Homo sapiens: one gene and its partners. The protein of the gene in region 1 purifies or fractionates together with the protein of each later gene. This does not show direct contact. Each region holds a gene or a part of one and is shown in the gene's direction. Other genes may lie near its edges. The genes, in order: ABCE1, SUCLG2, HEXB, GNA11, MMS19, TMPO and ZNF207.

Region 1 (3,500 bases):
AAGGTGATTATGGTTTGAACTCATTTTTAAATTGACAAGACAAACATTGAAGTAGGACTGTAAAGACTGACTTGCTGTGTTTTTTTTAAACGAAGTCACTTAGTTCTTTGAGCCTTTATTTTCCAAAATAAGTTAGGTATTTGAACCAAGTGGCTGCTAAGGTTCCTTTGAGTTTATGTTTTTATGTAATTGTTTTTATTTAATTTTTTAACTTCACATTTATAGGTTTTAGATAGTTTAAGATCAAAAAACATGCTGATTTTGGCAAAATAAATGTAATCTGTTCATTTGTTCTGTCAGCAAAGATGTATTGAACACCTGTGTTCTAGGATGAGGATACAGGCTGCATGATGTGTCTCTCAGTTCCAAATAAAATGAATAACGTCAAGACCTTCCAAGAAACTTCAGCTTTCTCTTCACTTAAATATAGGAAACACTGAAATATGGATTATTCATTGTTTCTCAAATACGCTTTTCATTTCAGTGTGTCTGCCATTGTAGATCTTAAAATTTTATTACAGAGGGTTCTTGTATACAATGTGGATTTAAGTTATTAAAATCTGTTTAGATAATGGTTGTTATCTTTGTACAGTGAAGCCATTAAAAAAATGTTAACTGGAATTAGCTCATATTCAATTTCATATGAACCTGCAGGATTAATTTTTTTAAAGCAATAAATTATAACCTCAAAATATGTGCTTATGTCTCATATGAAATTAAATATTGATAACATTGTATATTAAAAAATTTATCCCCCAAACTTTTATATCAATATTACATCAATCTGAAAATACTCTTACATATTTGTCATTTTCGCTTTAAAGATAAAGCAAAAAGGACATCATGTGCTCTCTTTTGCATAAAACCTGATGGAAAAAGTAATTACAGGATAATGAGAAGATGTACTTCATGTGGTTGGGGGGGACATGCATATATATTCATGAATTATTTAAACTTACATTAAATATATATAGTTTTTTAAGTTACTTCTTTATATGCAGACCAACATGTTAGCAAAAATCCACAGAAATTTAAAGTATATAGTCTATAGATTGCTCCCAAGAGAGCTTAGGATTTTGGCTCTAATGATTTCTCCCGGTTGACAATTTTCTTCCCAACAGGCATAAACATTTTTTTGGATGGCTATGTTCCAACAGAAAACTTGAGATTCAGAGATGCATCACTTGTTTTTAAAGTGGCTGAGACAGCAAATGAAGAAGAAGTTAAAAAGATGTGTATGTATAAATATCCAGGAATGAAGAAAAAAATGGGAGAATTTGAGCTAGCAATTGTAGCTGGAGAGTTTACAGATTCTGAAATTATGGTGATGCTGGGGGAAAATGGTAAGTTTTCTGTTTTGTGATAAGTAAAAATCTTCCTGTTTATCTAGTAAATTAGTTTTAACTGTTTTGTGGAAAAATTTGAATCATATGTTATAGGGCTAGAAGCAGAGTTTTATTTAAACCCACAAATTTCTTAGTGTACTTTCACATTTTTTTGGCATTGTGTAATTCAATTTCACTGTAATTCAATCAGGTTAATAGTTCTTATTTTGTTTTATAACCTCTAGTGAAAATAAGGTGTTCTTTGTCAGCTGGTTTTTTACATGTAAATTGATAAGGCAGTTATTAATCTTATAAATTGACTAAGATGGAAAGGATAAATGGTGATTCAGAAATAATCCAGCTTTAAAAATTTTTTCCTCATACACTTCAATGTGGAACTTTTCTTATTTTAAATTCAGAGCAATCTACCTTTGTAAATAATTGTATTACCAGCATATATTTCATAATAAATTGTCATAAGTGTAGATATAAGATGAATTTGACTACTAAATATGTGATATTGCCTTCATGATTTAAGAACTATTTGAATTGTAATCTTACAGCTTACAAAACTATAGAAGATAAATTTTATATAAAGATTGTTACAATGTATCAGTCTTTAGATAATGGGAATTTTGAATTGGGTTGCAATTAATTTAAATATTTTATATAAGTAAACTTTAAAATTACAGTTATCTTTCATAAAACAGTCTATACTGTCTTAATAAATTGTGTGCCCTGATAATTTAGCTAAGTAGATCTTTTCAAACTATTGCAGGATTTAAACTTTATAGACATACCATTTATTAAAATTGTCATAAGCTTTGACTAGTCTTTATTCCTCTTAATTACCTTAGAATGACACTTCAGAGGTGAGCCATGAAAGACTTAAGTATTTTTCTATATAAACTTCAGAATTCAATAATGTCAGTGTATATCTTTAAAACAAATTTCTCAGTTAAAACCAAATAGGACATAGTGATTTACTTTAAACGTCAAGCATCTTTCAGATCAAACTGTCATATGTTGTGTTGCCAGGAACGGGTAAAACGACATTTATCAGAATGCTTGCTGGAAGACTTAAACCTGATGAAGGAGGTACATTTGTAACTGTTGAGTCTTTTTACTCTGTTTTACACAGTAAACTTTAAAGATCTGGGCAGTTTTTAGTGTCTTATGTATTTCATTATTTTGCAGGAGAAGTACCAGTTCTAAATGTCAGTTATAAGCCACAGAAAATTAGTCCCAAATCAACTGTGAGTTATTATTTTTTATATGGTTACTAAAGAAAATTTTGTATATATGCCTATAGCTTTCATCTTTTACTATATTAAAATTTTTCTCCAAATTAGATTCTATACAGTTTTATTGATAGTTGCAAACAAATGTATTAAGAGTCCAATCCTTGATTCATATCCACTGCTAAGAAAGTGCTTTAAAGATATTTGTCATCTTTGGCCGGGTGCAGTAGCTCACGCCTGTAATGCCAACACTTCGGGAGGCCTAGGCCAGCAGATCACGAGGTCAGGAGATCGAGACCATCCTGGCTAACATGGTGAAACCCTGTCTCTACTAAAACTACAAAAAACTAGCCGAGCGTGGTGGCAGCGCCTGTAGTCCCAGCTACTCAGGAGGCTGAGGCAGGAGAATGGCGTGAACCTGGGAGGCAGAGCTTGCAGTGAGTGGAGATTGCATCACTACACTCTAGCCTGGGCGACAAAGCGAGAGTCTGTCTCAAAAAAAAATAAAAAAATAAAGATGTTTGTCATCTTTTTGCTAAATAAATAATTAAAAACCTAATGTATTTTGTGCTGCAAATTGACAACAGCAAGAAGGTGAAAAGGCTTTACCCACAAGATGGGAGAAACATTTGCACATCATATATCCAATAAAGGACTTGTATCCAGCATGTATAAAGAACTCTTATAATTAAAAATGAGCAAATGTCTTTTAGTTATTCAGCCATAAAAAGAAATGAAATATTAACAAATGCCACAGTCCTTGAAACCATTCTGTTAAAGTTAACCTCCTTTGATTTCTGCGGGTGTTGTAATGAACTCCTCAGTACCTCAACATTCAATTTATGTTTTGTCTACTTGGCTTAGCTTACCATAAAAGTTTTGTCATTGATGCTCTCTATAAGCTTAGCTTTAAATTCTAAAATTCAGCCTTATC
Region 2 (3,500 bases), on another chromosome or scaffold:
GGTTATTTTCAGAAACTCACTAAGAAAGGAACAAAATTTAGTGAAGACGTTGCATACTTAGGCTACTGCGTATAAAAATAGCAATTAAGAGCAAAGACTTTGGAGTTATCCAGACCCAAGTTATACCAACTCAGAGTCCAATAATATAATTATCAATGTCTAGGTTGTTGTCTACTTCTATATAAAATCTATTTTATGCCTGTAATCCTAGCACTTTGGGAGGCTGAGGTGGGCAGATTGCCTGAGCTCAGGAGTTTGAGACCAGCTGGAGCAACATGGGAAACCTCATCTCTGCTAAAAATACAAAAAATTAGCTGGGCATGGTGGCATGTGCCTGTAACCCCAGCTACTCAGAAGGCTGAGGCAGGAGAACCGCTTGAACCCGGGAGGCAGAGGTTGCAGTGGGCCAAGATCACACCACTGCACTCCAGCCTGGGTGACAAAGTGAGACTCTGTCTAAAACAAAAAACAAAAATAAAACCCCAACTCATATTAGAGTTAATTTTTTCCTCTGTCCTTTTAGCTTGTTTTTCTAAAGGATGGTTAAGTCGTCTTATTCAGACAAAAATTGCATTTCATATATGGGATTTTTTTTTCTTTTCTAATACCGTTCAGGATTGGGGCAAGAGGCAATGTTAAATAAAAACAGAAATTTGAGTTTTGGGAGAGATCAGATCTTTAAATAAATAGAAACAGTGACATTTAGTACATGTGAATCAATTTGGTAAATACTGAATGAAGAGACGAGTTACTGTTGAGTGGGATTTGTCATCTTAATTTTCAGCACCTTGAGTAAATAAGCCTTGAATTAAATTACTTCATGAGAGTTTTTCTCAAGATGAGAAAAACTTGCTTTACTTTGGGCTGCTGACTTGCTGACTTACTATATTGATTTAGCACTTGAGATGTAATCAGAAGAGATGATTTTAGTGAACTCATTTTTGGCCTGGGGTGTATGTTGCAGATGTGCGTAGGTTGTTGTCTTTTTCTATTTGTCCTGATCTCTGGTTTCATAGTCTCTGAACTGGTTGCTTGTTCTACCAACACTGTTTTGCATGGAATACTTTGACTGGAGGTCAAATGGCGACACGTTTAATTGACAACACTTCATTGAGGATACAACTCTTTCTGTGTCTTGATGGTTAGTGACTAAAGCTGATCTAATCAAGCCTATGTAGTGCCAATTAACAATGCCCAATTAGGTATTCTCTCTGGCTTTCAAGTTTTGCTGCTGGAAAGCTCAGAGAGGAAAGCATCTCTTCAGGATGACAAGGATATGAAAAATGATAATGGCAATGGAATGCCAGTTATGTAAAGAATTTGAAGTGATCACAATTAAAAATTTGAGTAGACAGCAAAAAGTATTTTTTCCACTTGATGTCTTCCAAAGAAAAACAGGAAATGTCTTCCTGTGTGCCATTTTTTCTTAATTGCTGAAAATTATTATAATGTTGATAGCTATCATATTTTGACTTTAAAAAAATGTGCCAGGCACTTTACTGTATTTCATTTATTCTTCACATCATCCTTACACTGTAGACTTCTTTAATATGACTACTTTACAGAAGGGCATGCTACTTTTACCTTTCTGAATCTCAGTTGTTTCTTCTCTACAAAGAAAGTGATAGGTAGAGTTGGAGATTTTAACCAGGTCTGTTTAACTCCAATATCCTTGCTCTTACTACTGTTCTTGCAGTAAGCTAAATATGCAATGTATTCATTTTACTTGGTTGCTTTCCTTGTGAGTTTCTGACAATTAATTTGTCTTCTACTCAGCTTGATGGAAACCAGTTTATTATAAGACAGGGCTTGACCAATGTTGTGATGGTTCGTATCCAGGGCAGAAATTATTGCCAGAGGGTACACAGGACAGCCTTCTAAGAAAAAACTGTGTTTGCTTCTGAGAAGAAGGTGGGCTTCAGCTTTCTGAGTGTAAGCAAATATAGGAGACAAGAAGACTAACCAATGAAGGCAGTGAAGGAGCCTCAATGGTGTGACATCAGCTGGCTGAATGCCTTCTGTAAAATACTTCTGTAGCTCCCCATTGCCTTGATGATAAAACCTTCCACAGCTCTTTCCGTTTGAACCTTTACCTGCTTGCCTGTGGGTAACAATGATGATGACAGTGACAGTAATAGCTGAAATAACCAAACTTAATGGAGCGCTTGTTAGTTTTTTGGTTTAGCCATCTCTGTAATGATTCCTTTCATTCTTTACAATATACAAAGGTAATAAATGAACTAACTGGTCGAGGCAATAGTTTTTAATTAATCACAAGTTTTCAGGCTCTGGGATAAAGCATTCATGTGTGTTCATTTAATTTTTAAAACAACCCTTGTCATCATTTCACAGTTGAATAAACCGAGTTTCAGAGACATTAAGTAACTTGCCTAATGTCACACAGCTGGGTGAGGGATGAAGGCCAGATTGAAACCTGGGTTTGCAGATTCTAAATCTGGTATACTGAACCAGAATACTCTCATGGCCTTATAGGGGATCAGCTGGGTTCTGTGATTTTAAATAAAGATGACTCACAAACAGAGGATATCAGCTGTGGTCTGCAGTTGTGTGCTATTTGGTTTATTAAACATATTTGATTTGGAGGCAGTTTTTTGTTTGTTGTTGTTTTGTTTTGTTTTGGTGGTTGGGGAGGGGAGCTACCCTGTTTGCTAAAGGCCCCATTTGTCACTGGGCTACTTCATGCACCCAACTTCCCTGCAAGGGAAGATATTTGTGTTAATAACTCTCGTCTAAAAAGTCAAGATTAGAGAGTTCTTTCATTCGTGGAGTGTGATGAGAAACAAAGATTCCACAACCACTTTCCCCCAGGATATTTTGTTACCTTGCCAATGATTTTAAAATATTGCTTGCTTTTAGTTTTAATCCATTTCCTCCTCCCTTTCCCAACCCTATCAGTATATAGAACAACTGCTCAGAAAACTGTTGGTTTCCAATAATGCAGTTATTAACTATGACCTTTGTGTCTTGTCTTTAAACCTTCCCCCGCATAATCCAGTCTTCCCTTTGACATCTCTGATGGTTAGCTCCTCTTACTGGCCAACTGGTGCCTCTGCCACATGGGAGTGCCATTACACAGTAAAATTAATACCTCCTTCCAGGATTTATTTAGCTTCTTCTGACACACTCAAAAGAGCAAGGGAACACATGTCTTGCTTTCCCTTGGGAAGGTCAAGTATTAGATGATTAAACTGGTAGGAAGCATTTGAATATCCTCAGTAAACAAGCTTTGTATTTAGGCTCATAGATGTTTTTTTGAAGTTCTTCATTGCATTTATTTTCAAAGTTAGTTTGAGAGAGCTTTTACCAGTTACTTGGAAGTTATGTGCCATTATTGCTTTCCTTATTGCTTAAAAAACAAAAAAAGAATTTAAAATCAGCTACCAACTCTGGATTTTTCTTTTTCAGATGCAAAAGAAATTGTTTTAAAAGCCCAGATCTTAGCTGGAGGAAGAGGAAAAGGTGTCTTCAATAGTGGTTTG
Region 3 (3,500 bases), on another chromosome or scaffold:
TTTGAAACCAACAAGAACAAAGACACAACATACCAGAATCTCTGGGACACATTCAAAGCAGTGTGTAGAGGGAAATTTATAGCACTAAATGCCCACAAGAGAAAGCAGGAAAGATCCAAAATTGACACCCTAACATCACAATTAAAAGAACTAGAAAAGCAAGAGCAAACACATTCAAAAGCTAGCAGAAGGCAAGAAATAACTAAAATCAAAGCAGAACTGAAGGAAATAGACACACAAAAAACCCTTCAAAAAATTAATGAATCCAGAAGCTGGTTTTTTGAAAGGATCAACAAAATTGATAGAACGCTAGCAAGACTAATAAAAAAAGAGAGAAGAATCAAATAGACGCAATAAAAAATGATAAAGGGGATATCACCACCAATCCCACAGAAATACAAACTACCATCAGAGAATACTACAAACACCTCTATGCAAATAAACTAGAAAATCTAGAAGAAATGGATAAATTCCTCCACACATATACTCTCCCAAGACTAAACCAGGAAGAAGTTGAATCTCTGAATAGACCAATAACAGGAGCTGAAATTGTGGCAATAATCAATAGCTTATCAACCAAAGAGTCCAGGACCAGATGGATTCACAGCCGAATTCTACCAGAGGTACAAGGAGGAACTGGTACCATTCCTTCTGAAACTATTCCAATCAATAGAAAAAGAGGGAATCCTCCCTAACTCATTTTATGAGGCCAGCATCATCCTGATACCAAAGCCGGGCAGAGACACAACCAAAAAAGAGAATTTTAGACCAATATCCATGATGAACATTGATGCAAAAATCCTCAATAAAATACTGGCAAACCAAATCCAGCAGCACATCAAAAAGCTTATCCACCATGATCAAGTGGGCTTCATCCCTGGGACGCAAGCCTGGTTCAATATACGTAAATCAATAAATGTAATCCAGCATATAAACAGAACCAAAGACAAAAACCACATGATTATCTCAATGGATGCAGAAAAGGCCTTTGACAAAATTCAACAACCCTTCATGCTAAAAACTCTCAATAAATTAGGTATTGATGGGACATATCTCAAAATAATAAGAGCTATCTATGACAAACCCCCAGCCAATATCATACTGAATGGGCAAAAACTAGAAGCATTCCCTTTGAAACCTGGCACAAGACAGGGATGCCCCCTCTCACCACTCCTGTTCAACATAGTGTTGGAAGTTCTGGCCAGGGCAATTAGGCAGGAGAAGGAAATAAAAGGTATTCAATTAGGAAAAGAGGAAGTCAAATTGTCCCTGTTTGCAGATGACATGATTGTATATCTAGAAAACCCCATTGTCTCAGCCCAAAATCTCCTTAAGCTGATAAGCAAATTCAGCAAAGTCTCAGGATACAAAATCAATGTGCAAAAATCACAAGCATTCTTATACACCAATAACAGACAAACAGCCAAATCATGAGTGAACTCCCATTCACAATTGCTTCAAAGAGAATAAAATACCTAGGAATCCAACTTACAAGGGATGTGAAGGACCTCTTCAAGGAGAACTACAAACCACTGCTCAATGAAATAAAAGAGGATACAAACAAATGGAAGAAAATTCCATGCTCATGGGTAGGAAGAATCAATATCATGAAAATGGCCATACTGCCCAAGGTAATTTATAGATTCAATGCCATCCCCATCAAGCTACCAATGACTTTCTTCACAGAATTGGAAAAAACTACTTGAAAGTTCATATGGAACCAAAAAAGAGCCCACATTACCAAGTCAATCCTAAGCCAAAAGAACAAAGCTGGAGGCATCACGCTACCTGACTTCAAACTATACTACAAGGCTACAGTAACCAAAACAGCATGGTACTGGTACCAAAACAGAGATATAGATCAATGGAACAGAACAGAGCCCTCAGAAATAACGCTGCATATCTACAACTATCTGATGTTTGACAAACCTGAGAAAAACAAGCAATGGGGAAAGGATTCCCTATTTAATAAATGGTGCTGGGAAAACTGGCTAGCCATATGTAGAAAGCTGAAACTGGATCCCTTCCTTACACCTTATACAAAAATCAATTCAAGATGGATTAAAGACTTAAACGTTAGACCTAAAACCATAAAAACCCTAGAAGAAAACCTAGGCATTACCATTCAGGACATAGGCATGGGCAAGGACTTCATGTCTAAAACACCAAAAGCAATGGCAACAAAAGCCAAAATTGACAAATGGGATCTAATTAAACTAAAGAGCTTCTGCACAGGAAAAGAAACTACCATCAGAGTGAACAGGCAACCCACAATATGGGAGAAAATTTTCGCAACCTACTCATCTGACAAAGGAAATATCCAGAATCTACAATGAACACAAACAAATTTACAAGAAAAAAACAAACAACCCCATCAAAAAGTGGGTGAAGGACATGAACAGACACTTCTCAAAAGAAGACATTTATGCAGACAAAAAACACATGAAAAAATGCTCATCATCACTGGCCGTCAGAGAAATGCAAATCAAAACCACAATGAGATACCATCTCACACCATTTAGAATGGCAATCATTAAAAAGTCAGGAAACAACAGGTGCTGGAGAGGATGTGGAGAAATAGGAACACTTTTACACTGTTGGGACTGTAAACTAGTTCAACCATTGTGGAAGTCAGTGTGGCGATTCCTCAGGGATCTAGAACTAGAAATACCATTTGACCCAGCCATCCCATTACTGGGTATATACCCAAAGGACTATAAATCATGCTGCTGTAAAGACACATGCACACGTATGTTTATTGTGGCACTATTCACAATAGCAAAGACTTGGAACCAACCCAAATGTCCAACAATGATAGACTGGATTAAGAAAATGTGGCACATATACACCATGGAATACTATGCAGCCATAAAAAATGATGAGTTCATGTCCTTTGTAGGGACATGGATGAAATTGGAAATCATCATTCTCAGTAAACTATCACAAGAACAAAAAGCCAAACACCGCATATTCTCACTCATAGGTGGGAATTGAACAATGAGAACACATGGACACAGGAAGGGGAACATCACACACTGGGGACTGTTGTGGGGTGGGGGAGGGGGGAGGGATAGCATTGGGAGATATACCTAATGCTAGATGACGAGTTAGTGGGTGCAGCGCACCAGCATGGCACATGTATACATACGTAACTAACCTGCACATTGTGCACATGTACCCTAAAACTTAAAGTATGATAATAATAAAAAAAAGAAATGCTTTAAATTTTAAAAAAAAATTCACATTTCTCCAACTGTCTTTTTCTCTTATTTAAAAAATTATTTTAAAACATTTGCAGTGGGATACAAATAAGCTCCATAATTGTGGTGAGTTAATATGTCTAGTAATTCTTTTTTGATCTACAGGTCTGCTCTTCCCACCTTTTTCTCCTGTAATTGTTGTTGAAGAAACTGAGTCATGTGTCCTACAGTTTCCCACAGTCTGGGTTTTGCTGATTGCACCCCACAGTGTCAATTAATATGTCCCTGTATTTACTATAA
Region 4 (3,500 bases), on another chromosome or scaffold:
CCTGCCTCTGTGGATCGGTCTGTCCTGAACATTTCATAGAAATGGGATTGCACGCCATGTGGCCTTTTGTGTCCGGCGTCTCTCACTGAGTGTGACGTCCTCAAGGTGCATCCACACAGTGGCCTGTGTCAGAGCCTCGTCCCTGTTCATGGCTGAGTCATGTTCCAGTGCATGGAGGGACCGCGTATTTGCCCATTTATCCCCTGGAGGACATTTGAGTGCCTTCATGTGTGGGCTGTTGGGAACGGAGCTGCCGTGACCGTCTGTGGACGTGTGTTTATGTGGATGATGTGTTCCCTTCCCTCAGTTGCATGCTACGCCTGGGAGCAGAATTGCTGGGTCCCAGGGTGACTCTGGCTTTGCCCTCTGAGAAGCGTCCAGAGAGTTTGCCCCAGTGGCCGCCCTATGGGGCAGGCCCAGCAGCCGTGCAGCCGTGGCTCCTGCCAGTGGCCTCCCTGGGGCCTTTCAGCTGAGGGGCCATTGATCCCGCTTTCGTAGCCCTGCTTTCAGGGGTAGGGCTCTTGCCCTTAGATCTTGGTTTGCCACTTGCCCTGTCTCCCGCTGTGATCTCTTCCAGCTGTGGCCCTCTCTGAGAGTCCATATTCATATTTGGGCTTAGATCTCCATCAGCTTCTGAAACACGCATCTGCAAACTGCAGACTGATTTTGTCGATAAAGTTTTATTGGCACATACCCATTTCTGCCATGTTGCCCATGGTGCTTCAGCAGCAGCAGCAGAGCCGAGTGCTGGAGACAGTCCGTGTGGTCGGGAAGGCTGGGTGTGCTCTCTGGCTCTCTGCAGAAGCAGATTGCTGCTGTCTAATCTGGAAGTTTCCAGGGAGTGGGATTTTTGGGGTTTGTGTCTCTTTTTCCAAGTCCCCCTAGGTGTGCTTATCCCAGCCCAGATTGAGAGGCTGGGGGCAGGGCAAGGGGAGGGCTGAAGTCGGAGTCCGGGGCAGGGAGCGTTGCTCAGAGGGGACAAGCAAGGGCTGAGTCTCCACTCTGGGGGGCCTGGGAGGGCCCCGTGGCTCCCAGAGCCCAGGGCAAGGCTCCCTTCTTTCCCATCTGGGTCCCACCCAGTATGTCCCCTCCCCAGTCCCTCAGCCAAACTGTGGCTGGTCATGTCGGCCTGTGCGCCCCGGGGACGGGGACACAGAGCATCAGGAGGGGAAAGGATGGCCCCCCCACAGTGTCTGCCCCAAAGGGTGTTCACATGTGTGTGCAAGCACGTGTCTGTGCGGTTGGCCTTCCTTTGTGACAGGGCAGCAAGCTGGGGCCTGATGCCACCCGCCGCCCAGGGTTCCGTGAGGGGGAGGCGGCTCGTGTTGGGGCACCATGTAAACTGTTGAGTGCGGCAGCTCGGGGGCCACACGCCGTCCTTAGCACCGGGTGTGGTATCTGCTCTTGATGATGTTTGATAAGCATTTTTCGGACGAAAGAGAGAAGCCGGCGGGGCAGAAACCGAGTCTGGAGCTGCACACTGCAGGCGATGCCGCTGGTTGCAACGTCCTGTGACTGGGCTTCCTGCCTCCCGGTGTGTCTGGAGAATTCGAGGCAGCGAGTGCTGGGGCTGTTGGTTAGTTCTGTCGTCGTGCTTGGTCGTGCTCGGCGCTGCACTGCCCTCCTGTGGGTCCTGGGTTTGAAGTGTGTGTGTTCTACACGTGCTTGTTCCCCACACCGTCCCCTCCCCACCTCTAAGAAGTGAATCGAAGCCCGGCCTCCCCGGCACCCTGCAGACCGCACCGCCGGGAGGCTTTGCTTGTGGGGCCTTGTTCGGAGGAACCACACCGCCAGGCGGCCTCGCGTTTTTCTGACACGTGTTCACACGGAACTGTCAGTGGTCCTGACTGCACAGCCTGCGGAATGCCGCCCGGGCCAGCCGAGGCCTGGAAGAGGGGCCGTCACAAGCTTTCTGGTGGATGTGTGGCCCCAGCGAGCTCTCGACGTCTCCCCTGCCCGCCCTCGCAGGCCAATGCGCTCCTGATCCGGGAGGTGGACGTGGAGAAGGTGACCACCTTCGAGCATCAGTACGTCAGTGCCATCAAGACCCTGTGGGAGGACCCGGGCATCCAGGAATGCTACGACCGCAGGCGCGAGTACCAGCTCTCCGACTCTGCCAAGTAGTAAGTGCGGCCGCACCGCTGGCGGCCTGGGGACGGCAGCTGCGGGCCGGTGCCTGGGACCCTTCGGGAAGGCCTCCGCGGCGTCTGTGGTGCCCCCTGCCTGCTCGCCGGGGGCAGGGATGCGGTGGGCCCGGGCCACCTGGCCGGATGGAGGGACCAGAGCAGATCCCTGGAGGGGCCACGCCTTGGCAGGAGCCGGTGGACTCTGGTGTGACACTGGCCTGCTTGTATGCCTGGCCCTGCCGCTGCCCTCCCTGGGTCAGGAGTGAGCTCCTGGCCACCCTCGGTGCTGGAGCCCGGCCTGTGGCCTGTGGGGGAAACCCAGGGTCTCCTAGGAGGGCCGTGGGATGGGAGGTAGACACAACCTGGGCCGTCTCGCTCCTGCCTGGGACATCGTCCCCAGAGCCACGTCTCCCACTAGTGACTGGCTGTGACCTTGACTGATGTCAGGGTTCTCCCAGTCTCTGGGCCTGGGATAGGGGGTGACTTGTGTGCTGACAGGTGGCCGGGCCATGGCCGCAGGTGGAGGCCCCCGCGTGGCAGGCTGTGCACTGCTGCCCTCCATGCTTGGCAGGCAGAGGCCCCGGCCCTCCCCCAGCACCGGGAGAGACCCTAAGGCGACAGGGACAGGCCTGTCCCCCGCCCCTCCTGCCCGTCCTCTGTGTGTTCCCTGCCTCTGGGAGGTTGTGGGAGGGCCCAGATAACCAAGCACTTGGAACAAAACGCCAGGGCCTCCTCGCGGTGCCGGAAAGGTCTGAGCAGGCACCCGGCCTCTTACAACCCCCACCCCAGGCAGACCACTCGAGGGGCGCCCCACTCAGGACTGCCCAGGGCGTCAAAAACGGGAAACTGTCCCAACCCAGAGGGCTGGGCAGGAAAAGGCATGAGGGGAACCAAGGAAGCCGGAATCAAGCGTGGACTTCAGTAGCTGCGCTGTGTAGACACTGGCTCATTGCTCGTGGTGGGTGCCGCACCCACGTACAGGGAGCAGCAGGGAGACGGGCACGGGGATCTGCTGGGACCTCTGCAGCCTCTGCAGCTGCGACTCTCCTAATGATGCGCTTGTTTGTGAAGCCTCATCCCTGGGGCCAGCCAGGCCTCTCTCGGGAAGTCCCCTGCCCTGGGTCACCGTCTCCCTCCTTGGTGGCCGTCTCTGGACAGCTCTACTACAAACCCCCCGAACCAGCTGGAGTCCTCGTCCTGGGACTTTCTCTTGTGCTGGGTCATTTCTGTCCCCTGAGACCCCAGAGAGGATAGAGGTTGGGAGGCTCGTATCCCGACCCCAGGGTCTCCATTGGCCCGAGCCCTCCGGGCTGCTTCAGACACTGCCGTAGGTGGCGCAGTGCGCGGTCCACCCCCTCCTGGTGGCTTTCCGTC
Region 5 (2,599 bases), on another chromosome or scaffold:
ATGTTTGTATTTTTTGTAAGAACTGGGTTTGGCCATGTTGCCCAGACTCCTAGACTCAAGCAGTCCACCTGCCTTGGCCTCCCAAAGTGCTAGGATTACAGGCATGAGCCACCACACCCGGCCCCATCCTTATCTTTGGCACTTAAGATTCTTCTTCCCTGATGTACCTCAAAGGCTCTTTTTTCTCCAGCTCATGGGCCTCCTGAGTGACCCAGAATTAGGTCCAGCAGCAGCTGATGGCTTCTCTCTGCTCATGTCTGACTGCACTGATGTGCTGACTCGTGCTGGCCATGCCGAAGTGCGGATCATGTTCCGCCAGCGGTTCTTCACAGATAATGTGCCTGCTTTGGTCCAGGGCTTCCATGCTGCTCCCCAAGGTGAGGAGTCTGAAAGAAGGTCCCCACATATACACATCTCTCCTTTGCTTGGCCACATTCCCTAAGATAATTTAGGGCCCGCTTGCTTCTTTAGAGCTATATTGTGGTCTGTGCCTAGAAGACTAAACTTCTAGATTCTTGTCCCACTTCTTCCTTTCATGGGCGTATCTTGCTTATTCTGAGCGTGAAGGGCTCTTTCACCCGTTTGTAGGCTGATGTCTCAGCCTCACCACAGATTGGAATTGATTTCTCAAGCTATATATCTAAGTCCAATTTCTCCCCTAAGCCTTTCCATTTTTTACAGATGTGAAGCCAAACTACTTGAAGGGTCTTTCTCATGTACTTAACAGGCTGCCCAAGCCTGTACTCTTGCCAGAGCTGCCCACGGTAAGTCCCACAGGCAGAGCTTCTAAGCAAAGGACAAAGCTATTCTTCCCCAGATGGGGCTAGAAAGGGGAGGGAACAAGAACCAGGATCTTCATGATGTGGCCATCCCCTACCTTGCCCATTGCCCCTTAGCTTCTTTCCTTGCTGCTGGAGGCCCTGTCCTGCCCTGACTGTGTGGTGCAGCTCTCCACCCTCAGCTGCCTTCAGCCTCTTCTACTGGAAGCACCCCAAGTCATGAGTCTTCACGTGGACACCCTCGTCACCAAGTTTCTGAACCTCAGCTCTAGCCCTTCCATGGTGCGTTGAGCCCCAGCAACTCTTAGGCACCAGCATCTCTCCCTGGGCATGCTCTCACCTCCTTGTGGTTGTGTTCCAGGCTGTCCGGATCGCCGCACTGCAGTGCATGCATGCTCTCACTCGCCTGCCCACCCCTGTGGTAAGTACCTCAGGTGTCCTTCCCTGGCCTGGGAACATCTCAAGAGACACATAAGTACCTTTTTGCCTTAGTCAGGTGGGCTTGGCCACCCTGGTGTGTAATTGAGATCTGAATTACAAGGTACAGATCTTGTAATTCTGGGCCCAAGGATTCTTTTCCTTGGGCCCAGAAGGTAACAGAAAGGCCATCCTGCCACTTAACATCCCTTGGAATCACTAAAGATGTTTTGCTTTCCTCAGAATATTAGTTGTACAGAATCAAAAAAGCGGTACTTTCAGTTGCCTTGGATGAGCAAGGTTGATTATATCCTCTGACTCCACAGCTGCTGCCGTACAAACCACAGGTGATTCGGGCCTTAGCCAAACCCCTGGATGACAAGAAGAGACTGGTGCGCAAGGAAGCAGTGTCAGCCAGAGGGGAGTGGTGAGTTTCTAGGTCGTGGGGAGAGATGGGACCAAGATGAGCCTCATCACTAATGCTGCCAACTTTCTTTTTGCCTACAGGTTTCTGTTGGGGAGCCCTGGCAGCTGAGCCCTCAGTCCTGGCCTAGACTGTTCTGACAATCTAACCTGGGATTACTAACTGTTGAGCCATCTTCCCCAAAGCAGGGAAACCACTGGTCTCTGACTGCCTTTCCCACAGACACAGCACAAATGCTAGGCCTCTGTTGCATGGCTGTACAAAGAACATAAGAGTCCATATTTCTAGTGGATTTGTAAAATAAGTGTGTGTGAGACACTTGCGTTTGAAGAAAGATCTAGGGTCCTGGGTCTCTTGCATTTATATGTCAGAAAAGGGGCGATATGCTGCTGAGGGGTGAGTGCATATGAGTGTGGCCCTGAGGACCAGGGCTGGCAGATGTTGTCTACCTGCTGAAGAATAAAGATTTCTTTTGGTAATGGGGCTGTCAGATATTTCCCCCACCCCACATATGCCTCATATAACCAGAGGCATCACTGGAATAACAATGACAGGGATTGGCCAAAAATTTTTCAGGGTAACCAGGACAGTAGCACATGCCTGTAACCCCAACACTTCAGGAGGCTGAGGCAGGCGGATCACTTGAGGCTAGGAGTTTGAGACTAGCCCTGGCAGTATAGCAAGAACCCATCTCTACAAATAATTAAAAAAAAAAAAAAATTAAGCTGGGCATGGTGGCTGACGCCTGTAATCCCAGCATTTTGGGAGGCCGAGGCGCATGGATCAGTGGAGGTCAGGAGTTCAAGACCAGACTGGCCAACATGGTGAAACCCCATCTCCACTAAAAATACAAAAATTAGCCAGGTGTGGTGGCATACGCCTTTAATCACAGCTACTTGGGAGGCTGAGACACAAGAATCACTTGAGCCGGGCGCGGTGGCTCACGCCTGTAAAGCTTGTAATCCCAGCACTTTGGGAG
Region 6 (4,262 bases), on another chromosome or scaffold:
CCAGCTACTCAAGAGACTAAGGCAGGTGGATTGCTTAAGCCCAGGAGTTCGAGACCAGTCTGGGCAACATAATGAGACTCTGTCTACCCACCGACTTTTAAATAAATAAGTGAACGAACTGTTCTTTTGGGAGCAGTTTAATTCCCCTAAGCCCACCAGTAAATATTCTTGAAAGTTGAATGAGTTTCAAAATTGCGATTGGTAAATGGAGGATTTTAAATAAATCACTTACTTACTACTTAAATTCATATGTTAAAATCTAAACGAAAATCTAGTGAGAAATAGTTTTTCCCCCCTAAGTTTCTCTTTTCTAATTGAAAAGGCTGTGTTTATGTATCTTAATTTTTAACTGAAAGAAACACAGCCAAAACTGTTTTGTTTTTCCTCTTTACTCCTAAACATGAGCTTTGAAGAGCCTTTAAGAAGGCAGGTTTAGTGACTATTTATCAGTGTTCTGAATATTCTTTTCTAATAAAGGATGCATCGAACTTTTTTTTTTTTTTTGAGACGGAGTTTTGCTCTGTTGCCCAGGCTGGAGTACAGTGGCGTGATCTCGGCTCACTACAACCTCCACCTCCTGGGTTCAAGCGATTCTCCTGCCTCAGCCTCCTGAGTAGCTGGGATTACAGGCACCCACCATCATGCCCGGCTAATTTTTGTATTTTTGTAGAGACAGAGTTTCACCATGTTGGCCAGGCTAGTCTTGAACTCCTGACCTCAGGTGATCTGCCCGCCTTGGCCTCCCAAAGTGCTGGGATTGCAGGCGCGAGCCACCATGCCCAGCCCATCTAACTTTTAAAATAGAAAATATGTAGAAGTTTTAAATAGGTTGACTGACCTCACTGCTTTATATGTATCAATTTTCTACTGTTACCTCAGGGAATGTGCTTGGAATTAGGAGTGGCAATGACATTTTATGTTATTTCTCTAAATCATGCCTTTATCTAAAATTATTTTTCTTTTCCTCCTTTCACTCCCAACAGTGCTAGTTGCCGCAGACCAATCAAAGGGGCTGCAGGCCGGCCATTAGAACTCAGTGATTTCAGGATGGAGGAGTCTTTTTCATCTAAATATGTTCCTAAGTATGTTCCCTTGGCAGATGTCAAGTCAGAAAAGACAAAAAAGGGACGCTCCATTCCCGTATGGATAAAAATTTTGCTGTTTGTTGTTGTGGCAGTTTTTTTGTTTTTGGTCTATCAAGCTATGGAAACCAACCAAGTAAATCCCTTCTCTAATTTTCTTCATGTTGACCCTAGAAAATCCAACTGAATGGTATCTCTTTGGCACGTTCAACTTGGTCTCCTATTTTCAATAACTGTTGAAAAACATTTGTGTACACTTGTTGACTCCAAGAACTAAAAATAATGTGATTTCGCCTCAATAAATGTAGTATTTCATTGAAAAGCAAACAAAATATATATAAATGGACTTCATTAAAATGTTTTTGAACTTTGGACTAGTAGGAGATCACTTTGTGCCATATGAATAATCTTTTTTAGCTCTGGAACTTTTTGTAGGCTTTATTTTTTTAATGTGGGCATCTTATTTCATTTTTGAAAAAATGTATATGTTTTTTGTGTATTTGGGAAACGAAGGGTGAAACATGGTAGTATAATGTGAAGCTACACATTTAAATACTTAGAATTCTTACAGAAAAGATTTTAAGAATTATTCTCTGCTGAATAAAAACTGCAAATATGTGAAACATAATGAAATTCAGTAAGAGGAAAAGTAACTTGGTTGTACTTTTTGTAACTGCAACAAAGTTTGATGGTGTTTATGAGGAAAAGTACAGCAATAATCTCTTCTGTAACCTTTATTAATAGTAATGTTGTTGTAGCCCTATCATACTCACTTTTTAAGACACAGTATCATGAAAGTCCTATTTCAGTAAGACCCATTTACATACAGTAGATTTTTAGCAGAGATCTTTTAGTGTAACATACATATTTTAGAGAATTGTTGGCTAGCTGTACATGTTTTGAAAAGCTGTTTAGCTAGCTATAAGGCTATAATTGGAAATTTGTATTTTTTATTTACAGCAAAACATTTATTCAGTCATCCAGTTTGCTACCAAAATATGTTTTAGATAAGTGTGTGTATGTTTGTTTAGAAGTTAGAAATTGTAAACACTGGTCTTATGTTTCATTTGGATTCATTATTGCATTGTCTTGTTACCAGAAACAAATTTTGCCGAGCTTTTTTTGCCCTATATTTCCCAGCATAATTTGATTAGAAAGTACAAAAAGGGCCAGGCGCGGTGGCTTACGCCTGTAATCCCAGCACTTTGGGAGGCCAGGGCGGGTGGATCACGAGGTCAAGAGATCAAGACCATCCTGGCCAACATGGTGAAACCCCGTCTCTACTAAAAATACAAAAAAATTAGCTGGGCGTGATGATGTGCGCCTGTAGTCCTGTCTACTAGGGAGACTGAGGCAGGAGAATCGTTTGAACCCAGGAGGCAGAGGTTGCAGTGAGCAGAGATTACGTCACTGCACTGTAGCCTGGCGACAGAGCAAGACTCCATCTCAAAAAAAATAAAAAAGTACAAAAAGTACTTGCTTTTATATTACATCATAAGCAGTAGTTAATAAAGTTGTATACTCTTAAGAGGTGGGCATTATGATTATTTTTTATTTTTTTATTTTTTATGAGATGGAGTCTCACTCTTGTCACCCAGACTGTAGTGCAGTGGCACGATCTGGGCTCGATGCAACCTCTGCCTCCCAGGTTCAAGCAATTTTCCTGCCTCGGCAGAGACGGGGTTTCACCATGTTGGCCAGGCTGGTCTCGAACCCCTGACCTCAAGTGATCAGCCCACCTCAGCTTCCCAAAGTGCTGGGATTACAGGTGTGATCCACTGCACCCGGCCGGCATTATGATTTTGTGTACTCTTGAAATGGTTATCTTTGTGGATGATTTTTTTTTTTAAGCTGAAACTTACCTCATGAATAACTTGATTAAAGTAGTAGGTGATTAAAATTTCAATAGAATCAAATGAGACAAAAATTTTAAACTGACTCATTTGAGTTTCAACTTTACAGTCATTGACCATAAAGCACACTAAAAATGTAAGTTATTTTTAAATACATCTGAAATAAAAATACTTACTAAAAAGGAAGAAGCCGAAGATGTATATTTAGACCAGCACACAATTTTGATTTCAATTAGCCTTATTCTAATATTTAGCTTTTAGATCTTTCATACACATTTTCACGTACTTTGCAATTGAGACCAGAAAGACTTGTAGGTCTTTCTGCAGAATGAGTGGGTCCTTGCAAAGTGAGTGGGAAACTTACTCCTAGATCAGAAATGTTTGCCTCTCTGAGTAAAATGTTTCTTTCAGATGAGCCATAGAGGGGGCACCTTTTACTCAACTTTTCTTTGTTTTGAAACTTTGTTTCCCATACTGTTTTCAGCCTTTTGTTTATAATTAGAAATTGTGAGAAGCTTCATTTAGTGTTTAAAAATGTGGGGAGATAAATCAGACTTAACATGTATGTAAGATCAATTCACTTAAAAGTATGGTCCAAATAGCAAAAATAGGACCAGGTGAAACATGTAGTCATTTTTTAAAAACATGTACTTGGTCTTTTGTGTGTGTCTGTTTTATTCCATTAGAATAAATGTGTCCTTGATGTAAATGCAAAGCATTTCTTCCTGATTAAATTGTAGATGTAGACTTTACAATATAATTCAATAATAAAAAGTAATTAACCTCTAGTTTTGTCGTTGCAATAAATGGTTTTCAGATAGCACAAACTGTGATTTCTGGATAACATTTCTTATGTGATATTTATGGATTATTGTGTTTTATTTCAGTCTGTTCATATGTTTTACTTCTTATTGTAATCGGGTTCTCGTTTATTCAAAGGTAAGCAATGTGTAGCTACTGTACTCACAGAATGACATTAAGCGCTCCAAGGCACCTCTCCCACACCTAGTTCCTTTTTCCCACCACTTTTACTGTCTTTAGTATTTACCTATGACCCTTATGATTGTTAGTCTTGCTTTGAGACTAAGCCCGTGTCACTGTGATACGTCATGGAGCTGTGCTCACAAGATGAAAGTGCCATTATGTCTTCCTCATTCATGTGTCCCCAGAGGTGATTTGACTTAAATTAGTGTTTCTCAAGGTAGTATAGACACCATAATTAATTATAAGGCAAATCGCATCAAAGGCTTAAAACAACAAGTTTTATTGCATGCTTACCATGTGCTAGGTACTTTTCTATGTGCTTAATATGTATTGATTCACTCAA
Region 7 (3,500 bases), on another chromosome or scaffold:
GGGTGAGACTCTGTCTCAATAATAATAATAATGACAATAATTTCTAGGTTTTTAAAGTTCTTTTAATAAATAGCGAGAGCATTGTAATTTATATTTTTTAAGATCTAGTAAGTACCTTCATGTCTCATTCAACATTATTCTACTTTGCTTAGTCCTAGAGCTGTCTGAATTTTTGCTAAATTAGACCTTACAGAAATATGAGATGAGCAAATACCAAATCATTGGAAACTACTATGGGTGGGAGGTAGGGAGACGTGATTTCTCCAGGTTTAAAGATAAATTTATATAGATCCTTTTCACTCCAGATACTTTAACAATAATTTAATATTCATTTTAAAATGTTGACCAGATGTGGTGGCTCACGCCTGTAATCCCAGCACTTTGGGAGGCCGAGGCTGGTGGATCACCTGAGGTCAGGGTTTCAAGACCAGCCTGACCAACGTGGTGAAACCCCATCTCTACAAATACCAAAAATTAGCTGGGCATGGTGGCAGGCACATGTAGTCCTGGCTACGGGGGCGGGGGGAGGGCTGGGGGCGGGGGGCGCGAGGCGGGTGCTGAGACAGGAGAATCACTTGAACCCGGGAGGCAGAGTTTGCGGTGAGCTGAGTTTGTGCCACTGCACTCCAGCCTGGGTGACAGAGACTCTGTCTCCAAAAAAAAAAAAAAAAAAAAAAAAATTGTTAGAGAACCTACTACATGTTAGACTCACAGCTGTTCACTGTTGCAGCCATTAGTTACATGTGGCTATTTAAAATGATATAAATATCTAAATGCTCAGTTTCTCTGTCAAGTAGCTAACTTATATTGGGTAGTGTGGATAAGAACATTTTGTTTTGATTGATTGACAGGGTCTCATTCTGTTGTCCAGGCTGGAGTGCAGATCATAGCTCACCGCAACTTTGAACTCCCTTACTCAAATGATCCTTCCACCTTAGCCTCCTGAGTACCTGGGACAACAATTGTGTACCACCATACCTGGCTATTTTTAAAATTTTATTTTTGTAGAGACAGGGTCTCACTATGTTGCACAGGCTGGTCGCCCAACTCCCAGGATCAATCGATTCTCCCACTCGGCCTCCCAAAGTGCTGGAATTACAGTTGTGAGCCACTGAGCCCGGCCATTTTCTTTAATTCTGAATGAAATAGGGGTTTAAATAGAGATGTATGCTCTGTCAGTTTTTTTTTTGTTTTATTTTGAAACGGAGTTTTGCTCTGTCTTGTGCTCACTGCAGCCTCCGCCTCCTGGGCTTAAGTGATTCTTGTGCATCAGCCTTCCAAATAGCTAGGATTACAGGCATGCACCACCGTGCCTGCCTGAGTTGTATTTTTAGTAGAGATGGGGCTTCACCACGTTGGCCAGGGTGGTCTTGAACTCCTGGCCTCAAGTGATCCCATCTACTTTGGCCTCCCAAAGTGCTGGGATTACAGGCATAAGTCACTGCAGCTGGCCTCTATTAGACTTTTTTTTTTTTCTTGAGACGGAGTCTCTTTCGTCCAGGCTGGAGTGCAGTGGGCGTGATCTCGGCTCACCGCAGCCTCTGCCCTCCGGGTTCAAGCAATTCTCCTGCCTCAGCCTCTCGAGTAGCTGGGATTACAGACGCCTGCCATTGTGCCTAGCTAATTGTTTTGTATTTTTAGTACAGATGGGGTTTCACCATCTTGGCCAGGCTGGTCTTGAACTCCTGACCTCCTGATCCACCTTCCTTGGCCTCCCAAAGTGCTGGGATTACAGGCGTGAGCCACTGCGCCCAGCCTGTAAGACTTTTTAAAAGGATTTTTCTGGCTGCAGGGTTGAAAGTAAAGTGCAGAGTACGGTGAGACCACTTTAGAAGACTTAGAATATTCCAGACAAGAGGAGATGGTGACAGAGACCAGAGTTTGATAGGTTAGATATGGGGTATAAGAAAAAGTGAGGAGTTAAGGGTGGTCTCAAGATGTTGATCTCAAGATGGTCTGGCTAGGTGCGGTGGCTCACGCCTGTAATCAGCACTTTGGTAGGCCGAGATGGACTAATCACTTGATCCTAATAGTTCGAGACTAGCCTGGGCAATATAATGAGACCCTGTCTCTACAAAAAATGCAAAGTTGGGCATGGTGGCACGTGCCTGTGTCCCAGCTACTCAGGAGGCTGAGGCAGGAGGATCGCTTGAGCTGGGGAGGACGAGACTGCAGTGAGCCGTGATAGCACTACTCAGCTCCAACTTGGGCTACAAGAGTGAAACCCTGTCTCAAAAATGTTTATTTTGAGCATATGACGAGATGTGAAAAGCTACAGGGATAATAGGCTTAAGAATGAGAATAAGGGAGTCCTGTGTTAATTTTGAGTGTAGGTATGTTTGAGGTCTATTAAATATCCAGATGAAAAGGTTACCGAAGCAGTTTGATGTACAAGTCAGGAGTTCATAGAAATTAAAACAGGAGATAGAAATTTGGACGCATACAATGTAAGGGTGGCTAGTTTAAGCCGCGCTACCAGATGTCCTTTGTAAGGACTGTAGTGTGGTTGGAAATTAGGTGCTCTCTGCTCTAGGCCACTTCCAACATTTGAAGGTCAGGAGATTAAAAGGAATCGTCTAAGGAGATGAAAGGTAGGAAAACCAAGAGTAGTGCCCTGGAAGTCAATGACGTGTTTCAAGGAGTGAGTTATTTAACTGAGTCAAATGCTGGTTCAGTAAGAGTACTGAGACTGGGTTAATAAGGTCATTGGTGACTTGACAAAGAGCGATTTCCAAGAGTGGTGAGGGTGAAGTGTGATTACGGTGCTTTGAAGAGACAGGGAGAGGAAGCGAAGGCATTCTTAGGGAGTTGCACTTTATGAAGAGCAGAGAAGTGGAGTGGAAGCTTCAAGGTTAGTTGAGAAACTTAGTAACATTATTGTCTGAGTGCCTTTATTTAGTCCTATTTTCACAGCAACCTGTGAGATAGACCTGGCAGTTAAATCATACCAATTTTATAGATGATAAACCCTAAGACATTATTAGTAAGTTAGGTGGTTCCCTGCAGTTTCTCATCAGTGCTTGCTCCTGTCTTTTCAACCAAGACGCTATGACTTTGCTTGGCAGGGTCCCAAGAAATCTAATTCTGGCTGTACCATAATAGATACACCTTTAATTGTTGCCCTTCTCAAAAATGTAGTGAAGATTAGTGTGTATGTGAATGTAATTGTTTATAGAATGCCTGTTGCATCATCTCTTTATTAAGAATAGCAAAATATTCCAAAAAACCTTAGGAAACGGCAATTAAGTCACTTGTTAAGCCGCTTTATCCATAAATATTTTAATTGCAATATAAGGAATAGCTTTTAACAATCAGATATTAAGATAATTTCTGAGTTTGATTTGCATGCCCCAGTTTCAAATCTTTAAGTGAGATACATTGCTAAGAAGAAAATACTTAGCTTTTTGTAGTTACTTTTCTGTTCGTACATGAAAATGTCTTAGGAGGAAAGAAAAAATGAGTATTATTTGGGCAAATATATCTAAGTCATTAGCCTAAAT

The links.
Region 2: the proteins of ABCE1 (region 1) and SUCLG2 purify together in Homo sapiens (affinity purification with mass spectrometry; 2 studies listed by BioGRID). This does not show direct contact.
Region 3: the proteins of ABCE1 (region 1) and HEXB purify together in Homo sapiens (affinity purification with mass spectrometry; 2 studies listed by BioGRID). This does not show direct contact.
Region 4: the proteins of ABCE1 (region 1) and GNA11 purify together in Homo sapiens (affinity purification with mass spectrometry, with the first as the bait; one study listed by BioGRID). This does not show direct contact.
Region 5: the proteins of ABCE1 (region 1) and MMS19 purify together in Homo sapiens (affinity purification with mass spectrometry; 2 studies listed by BioGRID). This does not show direct contact.
Region 6: the proteins of ABCE1 (region 1) and TMPO purify together in Homo sapiens (affinity purification with mass spectrometry, with the first as the bait; one study listed by BioGRID). This does not show direct contact.
Region 7: the proteins of ABCE1 (region 1) and ZNF207 purify together in Homo sapiens (affinity purification with mass spectrometry, with the first as the bait; one study listed by BioGRID). This does not show direct contact.

The regions. Positions count from the first base shown.
Region 1 is NC_000004.12:145,118,811-145,122,310, forward strand, and holds part of ABCE1 (ATP-binding cassette sub-family E member 1), read left to right. Parts: intron 1-1,121; coding exon 1,122-1,343; intron 1,344-2,363; coding exon 2,364-2,423; intron 2,424-2,522; coding exon 2,523-2,581; intron 2,582-3,500. UniProt on the Homo sapiens protein: Nucleoside-triphosphatase (NTPase) involved in ribosome recycling by mediating ribosome disassembly. Able to hydrolyze ATP, GTP, UTP and CTP. Splits ribosomes into free 60S subunits and tRNA- and mRNA-bound 40S subunits.
Region 2 is NC_000003.12:67,529,113-67,532,612, reverse strand, and holds part of SUCLG2 (succinate--CoA ligase [GDP-forming] subunit beta, mitochondrial isoform 2 precursor), read left to right. Parts: intron 1-3,426; coding exon 3,427-3,500. UniProt on the Homo sapiens protein: GTP-specific succinyl-CoA synthetase functions in the citric acid cycle (TCA), coupling the hydrolysis of succinyl-CoA to the synthesis of GTP and thus represents the only step of substrate-level phosphorylation in the TCA.
Region 3 is NC_000005.10:74,709,233-74,712,732, forward strand, and holds part of HEXB (beta-hexosaminidase subunit beta isoform 1 preproprotein), read left to right. Parts: intron 1-3,500. UniProt on the Homo sapiens protein: Hydrolyzes the non-reducing end N-acetyl-D-hexosamine and/or sulfated N-acetyl-D-hexosamine of glycoconjugates, such as the oligosaccharide moieties from proteins and neutral glycolipids, or from certain mucopolysaccharides.
Region 4 is NC_000019.10:3,111,362-3,114,861, forward strand, and holds part of GNA11 (guanine nucleotide-binding protein subunit alpha-11), read left to right. Parts: intron 1-1,968; coding exon 1,969-2,123; intron 2,124-3,500. UniProt on the Homo sapiens protein: Guanine nucleotide-binding proteins (G proteins) function as transducers downstream of G protein-coupled receptors (GPCRs) in numerous signaling cascades.
Region 5 is NC_000010.11:97,457,824-97,460,422, reverse strand, and holds the end of MMS19 (MMS19 nucleotide excision repair protein homolog), read left to right. Parts: intron 1-190; coding exon 191-377; intron 378-681; coding exon 682-764; intron 765-896; coding exon 897-1,061; intron 1,062-1,140; coding exon 1,141-1,200; intron 1,201-1,522; coding exon 1,523-1,623; intron 1,624-1,703; coding exon 1,704-1,731; 3' UTR 1,732-2,099; downstream 2,100-2,599. UniProt on the Homo sapiens protein: Key component of the cytosolic iron-sulfur protein assembly (CIA) complex, a multiprotein complex that mediates the incorporation of iron-sulfur cluster into apoproteins specifically involved in DNA metabolism and genomic integrity.
Region 6 is NC_000012.12:98,546,590-98,550,851, forward strand, and holds the end of TMPO (thymopoietin), read left to right. Parts: intron 1-983; coding exon 984-1,269; 3' UTR 1,270-3,762; downstream 3,763-4,262. UniProt on the Homo sapiens protein: May help direct the assembly of the nuclear lamina and thereby help maintain the structural organization of the nuclear envelope. Possible receptor for attachment of lamin filaments to the inner nuclear membrane.
Region 7 is NC_000017.11:32,353,157-32,356,656, forward strand, and holds part of ZNF207 (BUB3-interacting and GLEBS motif-containing protein ZNF207), read left to right. Parts: intron 1-3,500. UniProt on the Homo sapiens protein: Kinetochore- and microtubule-binding protein that plays a key role in spindle assembly. ZNF207/BuGZ is mainly composed of disordered low-complexity regions and undergoes phase transition or coacervation to form temperature-dependent liquid droplets.